2 linked regions of the Homo sapiens genome follow. The protein of the gene in region 1 purifies or fractionates together with the protein of each later gene. This does not show direct contact. Each region holds a gene or a part of one and is shown on either strand. Other genes may lie near its edges.

What was found.
Region 2: the proteins of TRMT10C (region 1) and ZZEF1 purify together in Homo sapiens (affinity purification with mass spectrometry; 3 studies listed by BioGRID and IntAct, with this or other methods). This does not show direct contact.

Annotation. Positions count from the first base shown.
Region 1 is NC_000003.12:101,557,776-101,565,039, reverse strand, and holds the start of TRMT10C (tRNA methyltransferase 10 homolog C precursor), read right to left. Parts: upstream 3,173-7,264; 5' UTR 3,037-3,172; intron 271-3,036; 5' UTR 259-270; coding exon 1-258. UniProt on the Homo sapiens protein: Mitochondrial tRNA N(1)-methyltransferase involved in mitochondrial tRNA maturation. Component of mitochondrial ribonuclease P, a complex composed of TRMT10C/MRPP1, HSD17B10/MRPP2 and PRORP/MRPP3, which cleaves tRNA molecules in their 5'-ends.
Region 2 is NC_000017.11:4,003,672-4,007,055, reverse strand, and holds the end of ZZEF1 (zinc finger ZZ-type and EF-hand domain-containing protein 1), read left to right. Parts: intron 1-85; coding exon 86-166; 3' UTR 167-2,611; downstream 2,612-3,384. UniProt on the Homo sapiens protein: Histone H3 reader which may act as a transcriptional coactivator for KLF6 and KLF9 transcription factors.

The sequences.
Region 1 (7,264 bases):
CTTACTGCTTGAGATTGTTGAAACACATTCTTCTTGCACACTAGATTTCATGGTAGTTTTCCACTTATCCAACTCTAGCTCTTCAGAAGGGGGTGTACTCTCATTTTTAGGATAAGTAACAGCTGGTATTTTGGAAGACATGTATCTCTGCAAAATTGTTAAGTTATTTCTCTTCCTATGAAGGGTAAATGGCACCAAAAACCTGGTGAAAGGTCTGAAGAAATTGACACTAACACTCATTTTGAGGAAAGCAGCCATGTAACAAAACCCCTGTAAAAGAAGAAAAATGCAATTAAAAATTAGACAAAGATTTTTATAACTTCTCAACTAATTGTGCAAGTATAAATTTGAAATAGCAAAATAAAATCAATTTTTGAAACACAAGGTAAAATCTTTGTACCAATTTTTTTCCTAGACTCCTGTGGTCTACAGCCTGTGATCACTCATTGAGTAAAAAGTTTAAAACTTAGTTGGGTTCTTGGCCGGGCGCAGTGGCTCATGCCTGTAATCCCAGCACTTTGGGAGCCTGAGGTGGGTGGATCACCTGAGGTCAGGAGTTCAAGACTAGCCTGGCCAACATGGTGAGAAACCCCATCTCTACCAAAAATACAAAAATTAGCCAGGTATGGTGGCAAGCACCTGTAATCCCAGCTTCTCGGGAGGCTGAGGCAGGAGAATTGCTTGAACCCGGGAGTTGGAGGTTGCAGTGAGGCGAGATTGTGCCACTGCACTCCAGCCTGGGTGACAGAGTGAGATTCTGTCTCAAAAAAAAAAAAAAAAAAAGTTGGGTTCTTATTTTAGACATGAATTTCACTATTGCTTTAGCTAAAAGGATAAGTTGAAGATCCTTTTTAGATTTTTATCTAGGGGCCCAGAGAATCAATGTTACTGGGCAACAAAGTTATGTACCACCGAGGCAGCTGACATCATGATGCTGCATACTCCTCCATTCTACACTAAGCCCAGATACAGAACCAAACATAAGATCCTTCACAAAAGCAACAAATAAAGACAAAGGACATGAAAGGTACTGAGAATGGCAACAGGTAAAAAGCACTTAGAAACTGCTGTACCAATGCCCTCGTTACAGAAATATACCAAGATCTACTGATCAAAAAATAGCAACAAATTCTTCCCCAGTTCAGGCTTTATTTTGCAGCAAATAATGTTATTAACAAAGAAAATGTCCAAGATTGAGACAAATGTATATAAATGTATATAAAGCTCCACAGTTTTATCCTAAAAGCCTGGATGTCCATGAGATATTGAAGATGCTTAAAGATGTAAAACTTGTCTCAAATTTGAAGGAAAAGAAATAAAGGGAATTCAAATTTTTACAAAATGCAAATAAAACACTTGAAAAATTCCTTCTTCCCTTGGCTTCATTTAATGACCCTGCACAGGCTCCTAGGTTTCCTGCTCTCTGACCTGTGCACTGATGTCCAGATGCCCCTCCCTTAAAGGTGGATGTAACTCCGCATTCTATCCTATTCTTTTTTTTCAATCTATACATTTCCCTTCTGAGATGTGACCTACTTCTGTGGCTTCAATGACCATGCATTAGAAAGACATCTCAAATGCAGGCCGGGTGCAGTGGCTCACTCCTGTAATCCCAGCACTTTGGAAGGCCGAGGAGGGAGGATCGCTTGAGGTCAGGAGTTTGAGACCAGCCTGACCAACATGGCGAAACCCTGTCTCTACTAAAAATACAAAAATTAGCCAGGTGTGGTGGCGCATGCCTGTAATCCCAGGTACTCGTGAGGCTGAAGTGGGGCGATTCTTCTACTTCCCAGGTACTCGTGAGGCTGATGTAGAAGAATCGCTTGAATAAGGGGGGCGGAAGTTGCAGTGAGCCGAGATTTTGCAACAAAATCTGTTGCAGTGAGCGACAGAGTAAGACTGTCTCAAAACAACAAAAACAAACAAAAAACACCTCAAACGCAACAAATCGAAATAACCCCTCTACCTTTGCTTCACAATCTGATCCTCCTTCAATGTTCTGTTTCAAGGGATATTGCTATCCATTGGTATTGTTCCCAACATATATTTCTAAGCTTATTGCGGCCAGGTCAGCAGCATCTCTAGCTATTCTTCACCTCACACTTCAAGTATTCCACCATTACTTTTCACAGCACTCTGGTGCCTATGACAGTACTTCTAACACTGCACTGTAATTGCCTGGTTATCTATTTGCCTCACTAGATGGTAAGGACTAACTAGTGTCCATGAGGACAAGGACTTTGTCTATAATGTTAACATTGAATCCAATGCTTGACAGTATTTGGCTCACAGTAATCACGCAAATATTTTTCTAATACCCTAGATCGATGCTTCCTTCATTAAAAAAAAAAAAAAGAAAAAAAAAGTTCAGCCTCCCTTTATTATTTTTTTTGAGACGGAGTCTCGCTCTGTCACTCCAGGCTGGAGTATAGTGGCGCGATCTCGGCGCAAGCTCCGCCTCCCAGGGTTCACGCCATTCTCCTGCCTCAGCCTCCCGAGTAGCTGGGACTACAGGCACCCGCCACCACGCCCGGCTATTTTGTATTTTTAGTACAGACGGGGTTTCACTGTGTTAGCCAGGATGGTCTCGGATCTCCTGACCTCGTGATCCGCCCACCTCGGCCTCTCATTGTGCTGGGATTACAGGCGTGAGCCACCGCGCCCGGCTCAGCCTCCCTTTAAAGAGAAAACAATTTACTTTAGAATCCCGGAAATATTTAACTGGGGTCCCCAGGCCCCAATCTAATAAACATTGATTTCAGAAGGAGTTTTAAAAGTTTTATTCTTGTAACTGGCAAGGACTTAGAATACCACAGAAATGAAAACCCCAATTGTAAAAAGCAATCAAGTACATCATTTCAGGAACCACTGATTTTGTTTCAGGTACTGTACTAGTTATAGTTTATTAAAATCACTGGGCTTCCTCTTACCCGTGGGCCTTCCGAACGCACATGCTCCACTAAGTGCATCTTGGAACGTCTCCGGCGTCCTCCCACCCCCAACACACACATTAGGCGAAAGAAGAAACTCGCTTACCAGGAGTGCAGAGATAGTGGTTCCCGCTGGCGCAAAGAACAGGGACCCTGGAGGACGAAGGACTCCGACGTACGGACGCCCAGGGATCCGCGCCGAAGCTAGCACGCAGCCTACCCAACAGTCTACACAGCCGACCAGAGCGGTCGCTGGGGCTCAGCCGGAAGTTCCGCCCTCTCCCTTCCGGCGCTGCTTTTTACGTCACAGCACGCAAAGAACGCTTTCTTGGCTAAAAGAAGCGCCTTAGAGGAGACGGCTGTCAGTAGGCAACTGGGTACTCGAAGACTACGCTCTCAGTTGTCACGGAGTTGTAGCTGTGTTGTGTTGTGTTTTCCTCCATATATCCTAAAAACTTCTTCTGGGCCGGGCCAGTTGGCTTACGCCTGTTATCCCAGTGCTTTGGGCGGCCGAGGCGGGCGGATCACTTGGGGTCAGGAGTTTGAGACCAGCCTGGCCAACATAGTGAAACCCCGTCTCTACTAAAAATACAAAAATTAGCCAGGTGTGGTGGCGCGCGCCTGTAATCCCAGTTGCTCGGGAGGCTGAGGCAGGAGAATCGCTTGAACCTGGGAGGCGGAGGTTGCGGTGAGCTGAGATCGCGCCACTGCACTCCAGCCTGGGCGACAGAGCAAGACTCTCTGTCTCAAAAAAAAAAAAAAAAAAAAAAAAAAACTGTTTCTAATCCTCTTTTCAACCTACTCTCTGTTTGGGCCCTGTATTTATAAACATTTGCTGACAGAGTACTAAAATAAAGTATGTTTTTTTCACACGTCTTCTTACTCAGCTTCAAACTCCTTGACGCTAGGACTTTAAACTCCTAATCTTTTTGACCAGTTTATCACCAGTACCTGGCACTATGCTTGGAACGTGATAAGCCACGGTAAGTTTCTGTCTCCTCCTAGCTCATTTGGAAAGTTTAATGTGAAATGAAATTAAAACACATTTGTAAATTGGTGGCCTTTGGGGCCAATTCAGCCTCCACATATATTTGTAACCAAACACAGAATGAACATATTCTGCAGCCATTCTACTCCTAGTAATATACCCAAAGAAATTGAAAGCAGAGACACAAACAGACACTTGTACTCTAATGTCATTGTAGCATTATTGATAATAACCAAAAGGTGGAAGCAACCCAAATATCCATGAACAGATGAATAGATTAAAAAATGTTGCATGTACATACAATGGAATATTATTCAGTCTTAAAAAGGAATGAAGTTCTGATACATGGTACAACATGGATAAACTTTGGAGGCATTATACACTGAGATAAGCCAGGCACAAAAGGACAAATATTGTATAAGTCCACCTATATGAAGTGCCTAGAATAGTCAAATCATAAAGAAAGAAAGTAGAATAGTGTTTACCAGGGGCTGGGGAAAGGGAAGAATGGGCAGTTACTGTTTAATAGGTATGAATTTTCAGTATGGGATGATGAAAAAGTTCTGGAGATGGATAGTAGTGATGGTTGTACAAGAACGTGAATGTACTTAATGCCATTGAACTGTACACTTGAAAATGACTAAAATGGAAATGTTTATATTGTATATAGTTTACTAAAATAAAAGAAGGTAGGCATAGTCTTTTCCAAATGATTTTAAAAAACGAGATCTTGTCTAAGAGACTGATTACTATCATGTTAGAAAGGTGAGGTGGTGATAGCAAAATAATCATGAGTTTACTCCCAAACATGGAAAAAAATCAAGAATAAATATCGTCTAGTAGTTATAACAAATAGCAGTGTAGAGGTTATTTTTTCTTGTTCCTGTTCTTTAAAGAGATACATCTGAAGTTTTTCCATTAATATTTTATGAAGGTTTTTGCTATATGATCTTTGTCAAGTAAAGGAAATTTCATTCTGTTAAGTTTACTAAGATTCTTTATGTGAAAAATCTTTGGAAGTGTTTCTATAAATATAGCAGAACATAATTTATTCAATATGTCTGGGATCTGACCTATTCTAGATTAAGAATATTTCCAGGTTTCAGACATCTTACCTCCAACAAAAAGCACAGTGATTTTCAAAATACGTTTTTTTGTTTTTTTTTTTTGAGACGGAGTCTCGCTCTTTCACCCAGGCCAGAGTGCAGTGGCGCGATCTCGGCTCATTGCAAGCTCCGCCTCCCGGGTTTACGCCATTCTCCTGCCTCAGCCCCCGAGTGGCTGGGACTACAGGCGCCCGCCACCGCGCCCGGCTAATTTTTTGTATTTTTAGTAGAGACAGGGTTTCACCGTGTTAGCCAGGATGGTCTCGATCTCCTGACCTCGTGATCCGCCCGCCTCGGACTCCCACAGTGCTGGGATTACAGGCGTGAGCCACCGCGCCCGGCCTCAAAATACATGTTTTGGCATAGAAAAATAGCTTGTAATATGGGATGTAAGGTATCAAAAAAATAAAAAATAAATTGTAGGCCAGGAGCAGTGGCTCATGCCTATAATCAGCATTTTGGGAGGCCAAGGCAGGCAGATTGCTTGGGCTCAAGAGTTCCAGACCAGCCTGGCCAACGTGGTGAAACCCTCTCTCTACAAAAAATACACAAAAAAAGAAAAGAAAAAGAAATAAATTTTAAAAGCAAGGAAATATATAAAAACCCATAAGACAATGTCACATAAACACTAGAATTGAAAAACTAGAAGGTCTGAATGCTCTCTCTTGGCTCATATTTCTTCTTGGAAACAATGGTTAGACCTAAATAAAGGCTGTTTTGTAGTCAAGGCACCCACTCTCCAGTTCCCCAGAGCTTATTCCACCACATGTTATCTTTTCTACACTGGTGCAAATGTCATTTGCCATGTATTTTGCCTGCACTGTTTATTATATAATAGAGAACGATTTCTCTATACCAACGTCTCTTTCAAGAGTTGGAAGACAAAGCATGGATTCAAAGATTTAGGTGTTACTTACAAAGTAGAGAACTCTTGTATTTGATTCTCTGCTCTACCTTCAATGTCTACAACAGTGCTTGGCAAGTATCGGAAACTCAATAATAATTTGCTGATGAATGAATACTAAATAGATCAGGTAAGTGATGTTAGTGGCTTGGACAACAGTGGTGGCAGTAAAGGCAAAGAAAAGGGGGAATATTTGAAAGATATTTAAGAGCTGGACATGACAGAATTTGGTGATCAATTTGGGAGAGAAGGAGAGGAACAAGTCAATAGTCTGGTTTGAGCACCTGGGCAGACAGTGAAAAGGAGTATATGGTGTGAGGGCAGAGATGGTAAGTATAGTGTTAGACATGCGGCTTTTCATCTCTCTTCAAAATAGCCAAATGATATCTCCTTTAGGATATTTGGCAGTTGGCTGTATGGGTCTAGAGTTTAGGTGAAAGAAGAATGCACCAAAGATACATATTTGAGAGTTATTAACATAGAGTCTGTGAAACCATATGGGTGGAAGAGATTACCTAGGGCTTGGGTAGAGAACAGGAATGGACAAAAGAAACTGAAAATAAGCAGCTAAAGAGATGGGAGGAAAACAACCAGAATATGACATAGAAATCAAGGAAAAGGTGTTTTCAAAGACAAGTGGATGGGTAACAGGGTCAAATATTGCCTAGAGATCATGCAATGCAGACTGAAAAGTATCTACTAGATTTAGCAATACAAGGGCCACTGGGACCTTCATTGTGAGGTTTGGGGGCTTTAGCCAGATGAGAGTGAATAAGGAATGAGGAGATTATGAGAAAATAGAATCAGCAAGTTTAAACATTTCTATGAAATTTGTCTAAAGAAAAGACAGCGTGCTCAGTCCCTGGATGTGGAGTCCAGGAAAATTTTCTTCATTATTATTATGTTAGATTGGGAGAGGCCTGACATTTTAAATGCTGTTAGAATCATCAGCAAAGGGGTAAGAGAAAGAAAGGATAATGGGATGGGTAGACTTCCTGAGAAGATTAACAGAGATGGTATATAGAGGAGAGATGCTATTTAGAGGAGAGATGGAGAGATTGGTTTCGTATAAGAGGAAGAAATACCACTTTCATTGTAACAAGAAGAAAGGAAGAAACTTAAGGTGGGTATGGAGGACAATTTATAGACATGATGGCTATAATTTGATACAGTTCGCATTCTCTGTGAAAGAGGTAGACAGACTACCTCTGCGGATACTAAAGATTGGGTGAAGGTTTGTTATTGTCATAAAGAATAACATATAACAAATGTACAGAAACAGAAAGTAGAATGGTTGTTACTGTGGAGTCCTAATTAGGGAAAAGGAGTCAGGCTG
Region 2 (3,384 bases), on another chromosome or scaffold:
CAGTGCTCAGCTGAGGGTCTTATCAGCACTCACTGAATGAGGGAGTGGCTCCCGACATTGGCGACAACTCTTTTTCCCTCTACAGGCTCTGCAGAACATTGCTGCCATCAGCCTGGCCATCAACTACCCAAACAAGGCCACCCGCCTCTGGAATGTGGAGTGTTAGCCCTTGGTGGGGCGTGCATGGGACTAGTTCATCTGCCACAGGGATTTTAGAGCAGACATCTAACCTCATTCAGGAAAACTCCTGTAGCGCCAGTGCCCAGCTCTCCTTGAGCTGACCACTCCAGTTAGGATGCCAAGCAGCCACGTCTCCAAGAGCTCCCGTGCGTAGGCTGGACACAAGCACAGGCTGTAGCATGGTGAAAATAAGCCAAGCAGTGCAGAATGCCTCAGAAAGGGTGGGCAGGGGGCCCTTAAGAAGGTTCAGAGACCAGCCTTCTCCAGAGGCTGTCACTGCAGGAGCCGTGGGCCTGGGAAGACTTGGAAGCGGCCTCTCTCAACTGGTTTCTGTCTCCGTGGAGCTGGAACTGCCTGCACTTGCCTTCAGAGGGAGGCACAGTCCACCCAGATCCACCTTTCCAGCAAGACCCCCAGTGGCTGCCCAGCCTGGGAGCACCTCTTTGCTTTTCACACCAAACCAAAACTGGCGAGAGCCCCTCCTAGCCACCAGTGATCCCCAAGCATCCAGTACAGAACCAGGCATCGAGCTAGCTCCCTGCACGGCCGCACCCTCCCAGAGAACTCCTTGAGGAGAACAAGTGCCCTTGGGGACAGCCGGCAGGCGCCCCTGTACGTCTGCTCATGCACCAGGCAGCACAGCCGCAGTTCCTCAGTTGTTGTTTTGACATATTTCAGTTTCCACCTCACGTTTTTAGAGCAGAACCACACTGTCTCCCTGGAGGGGCTCGAGGGCATGACCGGGGACTGACCATTCTGTGAAAGGAGCAGAATGTGAGGAGCACGCGTGAGCTTATGTACCGTGAAGATGATCAGAGGATATCTTATTTTAAGAGTAAAAACCCACATAATTTTATTTCTGCTTGATAGTCATGGTAGTCTGTCATACCCACCTCTGGGACTCTGCGTGGCTGTTTGGCTGTCACTTGTAGCAATAACGACATTAGTTCTAGTCAGTGCTGTTTTACATTTTTCTTTTGATGGGTTTAGTCTTGCCCTGGAGTGCCGATGATGATTCTCCCTCCAGAGCCACGCTTGGGAACATGAAGCAAGTCTGGCGTGTGGGCTGCGTGCCGGCCTTAGTGGGACCCGTGGGGTTGGAGCATGCCTTTAGGGGCAGTGTCTGGGCCGAAGCACGTCCCACCACACAGTGCCAGAGCCAGAGAAGGGGCCCCACCACCAAGGCCAAGCTTGACCAGGTCAGCATTGCCATGGCCCAGTGTGCCCCGTGGCCTCTGAAGATCCCTCTGTGCAGGGTCTGCAGGGATCTGGATTGCAAGGGCCCAAGTCTGCAGGTCTGGAAGCATCTTCCTATAAGAGCACTTTCGCCTTCTGGGTCAGGACTCCAAGGTGCAGCGGGCTTCACAGCCCTACAATTGGGTTCTCAGCTAAGCCCCAGAGTTCTGGTAGAACCATCCCGGGGCGGGTGGAGGGTGGGATTTAAGGGAGACGGGAACACATGGGGCAGGTCCTGGAACTTGGTGGCCTGAGGACTGAGGCCATTGCCCTGGTGGAAAGGCCTGGCCTGGTTCCTGTGGCTTGGGACCTGAATAGGCAGGTGCTGCTGGCTCCGTAGAAACCCTTTTCCCATCTTTTGCTCTTTGCCAAACCTACCTTGCTTTGGGAGCTGCCTGCACCACCCCAGAGAAGGCCCCACCTTCTTCATCCCTCAGACCCGAGGAGGCCTCCCAGTAAGGAGTTTCCCAAGAGGGGACTCACAGGAAACAAGTCTTAGTGCTTGGGAGGGAGGCCCCGCTGCGTGCTCAGACTCACAGCCAACCTGGAAGGTAGACGAGATAGCGCCACCCACGCCCCTCCACACCCCAGACTCCGAGTAAAGCGGGCGGTAGGGCCGGAGTCACCTCCCCTATGGCAGTGGCCGCCGCTGTACTCCATCCTCCCGTCAGGAAGATCAGCTGTAAATAAACGCTGGGCTCCCCAGAGCACCTGTCCGCCCACTGCCCTTGCTGTTCTGGGATCTTCGCTGCAGTTCACGGGAAACAAGCCTGAGTCCGCTCGCACCCGCGGCTGCTCTCCCGGCTCGGCCCGGCCGCCTCTGTCTCCGGCCACCGGGTGGCGCTGCCGAGCCAGAGCCGCCGCGTCCCGGCGCTTTCCAGGAGCCCCAGGCCCGGAGGAGGCGAAGCCCGCAGAGCAAAGGTGGAAACACGTGCCTACGCTGTAAAGAAATCCTGTTCCAGAGCATACCTGTTGTACAAACAGACACTGTTCCTAACGAGAGGAGTGACGTATTTTCATCACCGTTTTTAATTTGTTTTCTTACGGGTTTACGATTTTGAATTTTTCTTATTTGGTTGAAAGAATTTTGATTCTATCAGCCTGAGTGAGTTCAGCCTGTAAAAAGGATGTTAAGCTGTGGGTAAAATATGCAAACGAAAAGAAATATATTGTACAAATTCTATATAATAAGGTACGCCTGTGTGTGGACTGGTCTCTCCCTCCTCCCTCCGCCCCGCCGTGTCTCGTGGAGCTCAGGCGTGGAGTTTACACCGCGCCCGAACGGATGCGAGGCGGAGACTCGGGGGCTCAGGGCTGAAAGAATGGAAAGCTGCTGTAGGCCTTCCTCCAGATCATCCTCCTCCCAAGCCCGAGCCAAGCCCCCGCCCCTCCCCCGGCGATCCCAGGGCTTTGGTTCTCCCCCCACCCCCCTGCGGCCATCCGGAGGTTTCCACACACAGGGCGCCGTGGGGGCCTCTGCTCTTCGGCCAGGCTCCCCTGGCCCCACCGCCCGCCGTGGACCTCTCTGGTAGCCCGCAGGACACTGCGGAACCCGGAGGAGGAAGGCAGGGCCCCAGGCAGTGCGCCTGCTGCCTTCCTGGGACTGGCTGCCTTCCCGCCGGCCTTTGGACCCTGCCTCTGGCCCAAGTGTGGCCTGAGGTTTACCTGGGCCTCCCGCTTCCTCCTCCTCCCCGCCTCTGCTTTGCCACGCGCTGCTCTGTCTCCTTCCCAGAGGCATTCTGGGGCTGAGGACTGTCTGGCAAATTACAGAAGCGTGCCTTCTTGGCAGGGGCTGCACTTAACCAACCTTTGAGGCCCATTTGTTCCAGCCCGACAGAGTCTGACACATCCCCCAAAGCCCCAGACTGCTTTCGGGGGAGCCCCAGGCAGGGTCTGGACCCAGCCTCAGCCCTCACTATCCCTCAGCCCAGAGAGAAACCTGAGACTCAGCAGGACTGGGTGCTCCCA